2 linked regions of the Homo sapiens genome follow. The protein of the gene in region 1 purifies or fractionates together with the protein of each later gene. This does not show direct contact. Each region holds a gene or a part of one and is shown in the gene's direction. Other genes may lie near its edges.

Region 1 (3,323 bases):
GGCCAGGCTGGTCTCAAACTCCTGACCTCAGGTGATTGACCCACCTCAACCTCCCAAAGTGCTGGGATTACAGGTGTGAGCCACTGCACTGGGCCAAGAATAAGATTTTTAAAAACATTTTCGCATCTGGAGGCTCCAGGGGGCTTCCCTGAGAAACGGCAGCCTCTGCGGTCAGAGAGGCTGCAATTCAGAGCGTTCCCACAAACAGCACCATGTGCTCGTGCTTACCTGCTTGGGTGTGTGAGTCACCTGGAGATGGGGTGCAGAAACATTGACATACCTGAGCTATCTTTCTTCCTCTGCCCTTTGCAGGTGTTTGATGTACAGAGGAAAGTCACCTATAGGAACCTGAGCACCTGGTATACAGAGCTTCGGGAGTTCAGGCCAGAGATCCCATGCATCGTGGTGGCCAATAAAATTGATGGTGGGGCCATCCCTGCACCTGGGTGTTAGCAATTCACTGGGGACCTGCCCTCATACATTTCCTCCTCCATTCCCCGGGCAGGCAACCTTCAGTGATTGGTCCTCCCTCCCACGATAAGATACAACCCTTGGTTGGTTGCTTGCATTCTTCCCACCTTATAAAGAAGCCAGCTAAGCCGACCTGCCCTCTTTCCAAGACACAGATCCCTATTAACTGAGCTCTTTCTAGGACCTGTTTCCCAATCATCCCTGCCTATCCCACTTTCTGGAATGAAGGCCTCCAGTGGCCCCCCCCTCCAAACCTTCTTCCCTTCCCTTGACAGACAGACCAATGTCCTACCTTCTCTCTACAGCAGACATAAACGTGACCCAAAAAAGCTTCAATTTTGCCAAGAAGTTCTCCCTGCCCCTGTATTTCGTCTCGGCTGCTGATGGTACCAATGTTGTGAAGGTGTGGTTGACTGCAGAGGTAGCTAGCAAGGTCAGGGCGCTAGGTGGTAAAGGGAAGCTGTGAAGAGAAGGGCTTACTGCAGGTGTGATGGAGAGAACCGGGACAGTGCATGGGCATGGGTGGCAGGGAGGGGAGGAGCTGATGGGCCTGGACTTGATGAGGCAGAAGTCCATTGACCATACATAGGTCAGGGTGACGGGGAGAGGCAAATGGAGGGGTAAGGTTGCTGATTTTAGGAATGGAGTATTGTGTAGTCTCACAGTGGGGCCAGTGGGGTGGACTGGGCAGAGTCCAAGGCACTCTCATCCACCATCTCTACCTCACCCCCAGCTCTTCAATGATGCAATTCGATTAGCTGTGTCTTACAAACAGAACTCCCAGGACTTCATGGATGAGATTTTTCAGGAGCTCGAGGTAGGTCAGGTCCACATTTCGGGTGGGATGGAAGAAACGGCTCCTCTTCAGGGATAGGGACTACAACCCAGTAGAGTGACTCTTGCCTAAGTTTGCCCCACTAAATGTATCAGAGCTGCGGTTGAGCAAATGCAGGGCCAGGCCTCACCTGCGACCTTGTTCACAGAACTTCAGCTTGGAGCAGGAAGAGGAGGACGTGCCAGACCAGGAACAGAGCAGCAGCATCGAGACCCCATCAGAGGAGGCGGCCTCTCCCCACAGCTGAGGGGCTGGGGCTAGGGGTGGGTGGAGCCCTTTTAAAATACCCTTCCCTTCAACAACTCTCCAGCTCTGAATGGAGAAACTCTCTAGGCCATCCCCTCTTCTACCTCCTGCAACCCACCCATCCTATTAGCCTCCCACATTCTAGGCCCGTGATACAGGGATGAGGTCAGCACCAGCAAACTCTGGACTGGTGGAAGAATTCCCCACCAGATCTCCTTGAAGCAGAAGTAGGGATCAGCATCATTAACACCTTCCCCACCCCCTCCCCGCAGGCAGACAGTGAAGAGAATCAGAAAACATGATTATGTGTCACTTTAATACAGGAAATTTAGGTGTTTTTTGGTGTTTTTGTTTTTGTTTTTGTTTTCTTTCCAAAGCTCACCTCGGGGACAATTCCTTGGGCTTCTCCTGAGGTAATGATTTACCCCCCCACCCACAGCTGAGTCTGTGAGGCCCCATCCTTTCCCTACGTTTTCTCCCATCTTTTTTCCTCTTCAGTCTCCCAGTCATCTGGTTTGTTTGTTTCTTTGTTCGTTCTGAGACGGAGTCTCGCTCTGTCGCCAGGCTGGAGTGCAGTGGCGCAGTCTCGGCTCGCTGCAACCTCTGACTCCCTGGTTCAAACGATTCTCCTGCCTCAGCCTCCCGAGTGGCTGGCATCACCACGCCCAGCTAATTTTTGTATTTTTAGTAGAGACGGGGTTTCACCATGTTGCCCAGGATGGTCTCGATCTCCTCACCTCGTGATCCGCCCGCCTCGGCCTCCCAAAGTGCTGGGATTACAGGCATGAGCCACCGCGCCCGGCCCCAATCATCTGTTTTTAAACAATCGTTTTTGAGCAGATAGCTATTCATTCCAGATTTTCGTGTACCCATTCTGTTTCAGGAGCTCTTCTAGGTAAAGCTGAGATCACAGGAACAGCAGGTGACAGGCCTAGCTATAGTTAGGAATACACAAGCCGTAAAATCGAGTCCTTACAGCCATACCACAAGGTACGTCCATTTGGACTACAAGAAGAGCTTCCTTTAAAGTTCCTATTTCAGCATAAAGAGGCTGTCCTTTTTTTTGAGGAATAGTTTGGACCTTGTGCCTCCTGTGGGAGGCTGAGGACTGCAAGAGGAGAGCTAGCAGATATGCCTGTTCACCCCTCTCTGGTACTTGTGGCTTGCTAGTATGTTTTTATGATAATCTCGGGCATTGTTTGCATTGTGTTTATTAATAGGGTTTTGTTTTTGTTGTTTCCTTTTTTACAGTAAAGGCTGAATTACATAAACATTGAGTAAATGTATGTGCTTTGTGGCTCTGAAGTGTGTACTGAGCAAAAAGACAAAAGAATCTGCAAATCATCACCCTTATCAATGAGGGGTAGCTGCCTTGACCTGTTGCAGGGTAGCCCATGTTTACTCTCAATTCACTATATTGGAGGCCATTTCAGTGGAATTTAGTGTTTTCAAAAGAATTCAATTACCTATTAATTTGGGAGCTCAAGAACAAGCACATTTCCCCTTGAAATCAGCAATACTTAGATGTTCAACGTAAGATGTTTGACCTGACCAGGGGTTCCCAGGAACGTATACCCTGATGAGGTAGAACTTAAAAAAATGTAGTTACTGTAAATAACTACTAAGTACTTAAAAAAAAATACAACAGCCTTACTGAGATAGAATTTGCAGACTATAAAGTTCACCATCGTGTTGGTTTTATGGGACTATTCTGTATCAGGTTCCTTAGAAGCTGACCCTGAGAAGGCCGTGGTTCAAATGACTTAATTAG
Region 2 (3,500 bases), on another chromosome or scaffold:
TGGTGGCGCGCACCTGTAATCCCAGTTACTCAGTAGGCTAAGGCAGGAGAATCACTTGAACCTGGGAGGTGTAGGTTGCAGTGAGCCGAGATCGCGTCACTGCACTCCAGCCAGGGCGACAGAGAGACTGTGTCTCAAAAATAAAATAAAATAAAATAAAGCGCTCACTACCTTCAATACACTTGATATTTGCAAATCAATCCTATTTAGTTCCATTAAAAAAATGCTAGCTCCAATCCACGATATTGTTTTGTTTTGTTTTAATCTACTAACGGGTCATGACTACACACTTGATAATATGATGCTGGTTGACTCCTAACGTCCAGCTTTAATACGGTTTGTTTCTCTGGTTAGTTATAAATGAAGTTAGACTACGCTTTAGCTTTTATTTTAGATTTGGGTTGTGGGGGATACACGTGCAGGTTCGTTACATGGGTATATTGCATCATGCTGAGGTTTGGGCTTCTGTTGAACCTATCACTGAAATAGCGAACATAGTACCCAGTAGGTTGTTTTTCAACCTTTACCCCTTACCTGTCACTTCCCACCTTTTTTTTTGAGATGGAGTCTCTGTCACCCAGGCTGGAGTGCAGTGGCTTGATCTAGGCTCATTGCAACTTCTGCCTCCCAGGTTTAAGCGATTCTCCTGCCTCAGCCTCCCGAGTAGCTTGGACTACAGGTACGAGCCACCATGCCCGGCTAATTTTTTGTATTTTTAGGAGAGATGGGGTTTCACCATGTTGGCCAGGCTGGTCTCAAACTTGTGAGCTCAAGTGGTCTGCCCACCTTGGCCTCCCAAGGTACTGGTATTACAGGCGTGAGCCACCACGCCCGGCCCTTTCCCACTTTTGGAATCCACAGTATCTTATTTTCATCTTTATGTCTATATTTACCTATTGTTTAGACCCCACTTACAAGTGAGAGAAGGTGTGATATTTGATTTTCTGTTTCTGCATTAATTTGCTTAGGATAATGACCTCCAGCTGCATCCATGTTGCTCCAAAGGACATGATTTCATTCATTTTTATGGCTACGTAGTATTCCACGGTGTATATGTACCACATTTTCTTTATCTAATCTACTGTTTTTTGTTTGTTTGTTTGTTTTGTTTTGTTTTTGAGGCAGAGTCTCGCTCTGTTGCTCACGCTGGAGCGCAGTGACGTGATCTTGGCTCACTGCAACTTCCGCCTCCCGGGTCCAAGCAATTCTCCTGCCTCAGCCTCCTGAGTAGCTGGGATTACAGGCACATGCCACCATGCCTGGCTGATTTTTGTATTTTTAGTAGAGATGGAGTTTCACTATGTTGGTCAGGCTGGTCTCAAACTCCTGACCTCATGATCTGCCCACCTCGGCCTCCCAAAGTGCTGGGATTACAGGCATGAGCCACTGCTCCCGGCCTATCTGATCTACTGTTGATAGGTACTTAGTTTGATTCAATGACTTTGCTGTTGTGAATAGTGCTGTGATAAACATACTAGTGCAGTGTCTTTTTGATAGAATGATTTCTTTTCCTTTGGATAGATACCCAGTAGTGGGAATGCTGGGTCTAATGATAGTTCTAAGTTCTTTGAGAAATCCCTCTACTCTTTTCCACAGGGGTTGAACTAATTTACATTCCCACCAGCAGTGTATGATACTCCCTTTTCTCTGCATCCTTGTCATCTGTTATTTTTTAACTCTTTAATAATAGCAATTCTGACTGGTGTGAGATGGTATCAGTGTGGTTTTAATTTGTATTTTATTGATGATTAGTGATTCTGAGCATTTTTTTCATATGTTTGTTGGCCACTTGTATGTCTTCTTTTGAGAAGTATCCGTTTATGTCCATTGCTCACTTTTTAATGGAGTTATTTTTTTTTTCTTGTTCATTTGTTTGAGATTCCTTGTAGATTCTGGATCCTAGTCCTTTGTCAGATGTACAGTTTGCAAATATTTTTTTCCCATTCTTTAGGTTACCTCTTTACTTTGTTGATTCTTTTGCTATGTAGAAGCTTTTTAGTTTAATTAAATCTTGTTTATGAATTTTTGTTTTGTTGCATTTGCCTTTGAGGTTTTAGTCATAAATTCTTTGCCTAGGCCCATGTGCAGAAGAGTTTTTCCTAGGTTTTTTAAAATAGGATCTTTATAGTTTGAGGTTTTATGTTTAAGTCTTTAATACGTCTTGAGTTAATTTTTGTATGTGGTGAAAGGTAGGGGGTCCAGTTTCATTCTTCTGCACATGCTAGCCAGTTTTTTTGTGTGTTTTTTGGGTTTTTTTTTCTTTTTAGCACTGTTTATTGAATAGGTGTCCTTTCCCCATTTTTGCTTTTGTCAGCTTTGTTCAAGATCAACTGGTTATAGGTGTATGGCTTTATTTCTGGGTTCTCTATTCTGTTACATTGATACAGATGTCTGTTTTTGTATTGGTAACATGCTGTTTTGGTTAGGATATCCTTGTAGTATAGTTTGAAGTTGGGTAATGTGATGCCTCCTGCTGTGTTCTTTTTGCTTGGCTATTCAGGCTCTTTTTTGGTTCCATATGAATTTTAGAATTGTTTTTTCTAATTTGTGAAAAATGATGTTGCTAATTTGATGGGAATAGAATTTTTGGATTGTTTTGGGCAGTATGGTCATTTAAATTTTGATTCTTCCAATCCATGAGCATGGAATGTTTTTCCATTTGTTTGTGTCATCTGTTATTTCCTTCATCAGTGTTTTGTAGTTCTCCTTGTAGAAATCTTTCACCTCCCTGGTTAAATTTATTCCTGGGTATTTTATTTTTCATGTGGCTATTATAGATGGGATTGCATTTTTGATTTGGTTCTCAGCTTGAACATTATTGGCATATAGAAATGCCACTGACTGTTGTAAGTTGATTTTGCATCCTGAAACTTTACTGAAGTCTTTTTCTTAGGTCTAGGAGTTTTTTGAAGGACTCCTTAGGGTTGAACAGAGATAATTTGAGTTTCTCTTTTCCTATATGGATGCCTTTTTTTAAATTTTAATTTTCTGCCTGATTCCTATGGGTAGGATGGAAAGTATTATGTTGAATAGGAGTCGTAAGAGTGCACATCCTTGTCTTTTTTCAGTTCATAGAGGGGATGCTTCTAACTTTTGTCCATTCAGTGTGATCTTGATTTTTTGGAGTAGTTTCAGTAAGATTGATACCAGCTCTTCTTTGTTTGTCTGGTATAATTTGGCTGTGAATGCATCTGATCCTGGTCTTTTTTTGGTTTGTAGATTTGTTTTTATAACTGATTCAATTTTGTAAATTGTTATGATCTGTTCAGGATTTCAGTTTCTTCCTTGTTCAATCTTGGGAGGTTGTGTGTTTCCAAGAATTTATCCATTTCCTCTGGTTTTTCTAGTTTGTGCACATAAAGATGTTCATAGTAGTCTCTGAGGCTCTTTTGTATTTTTGTAGTATGAGTTCTGTCACCTTTGTCATTTCTGATTATGCTTCTTAGGATCTTCTCACTTTTTTTTTTTTTAATTTACTTAGAGGTTTATCTATCTTGCTT

What was found. Proteins that work in one complex are often made in the same cells at the same time.
Region 2: the proteins of RABL2B (region 1) and CEP350 purify together in Homo sapiens (affinity purification with mass spectrometry; one large-scale study listed by BioGRID and IntAct). This does not show direct contact.

What each region holds. Positions count from the first base shown.
Region 1 is NC_000022.11:50,767,006-50,770,328, reverse strand, and holds the end of RABL2B (rab-like protein 2B), read left to right. Parts: intron 1-312; coding exon 313-424; coding exon of another isoform or gene 425-453; exon of another isoform or gene 454-776; coding exon 777-874; coding exon of another isoform or gene 875-904; intron 905-1,204; coding exon 1,205-1,288; intron 1,289-1,454; coding exon 1,455-1,553; 3' UTR 1,554-2,823; downstream 2,824-3,323. UniProt on the Homo sapiens protein: Small GTPase required for ciliation. Activated in a guanine nucleotide exchange factor (GEF)-independent manner via its intrinsic GDP for GTP nucleotide exchange ability.
Region 2 is NC_000001.11:179,961,310-179,964,809, forward strand, and holds part of CEP350 (centrosome-associated protein 350), read left to right. Parts: intron 1-3,500. UniProt on the Homo sapiens protein: Plays an essential role in centriole growth by stabilizing a procentriolar seed composed of at least, SASS6 and CPAP. Required for anchoring microtubules to the centrosomes and for the integrity of the microtubule network.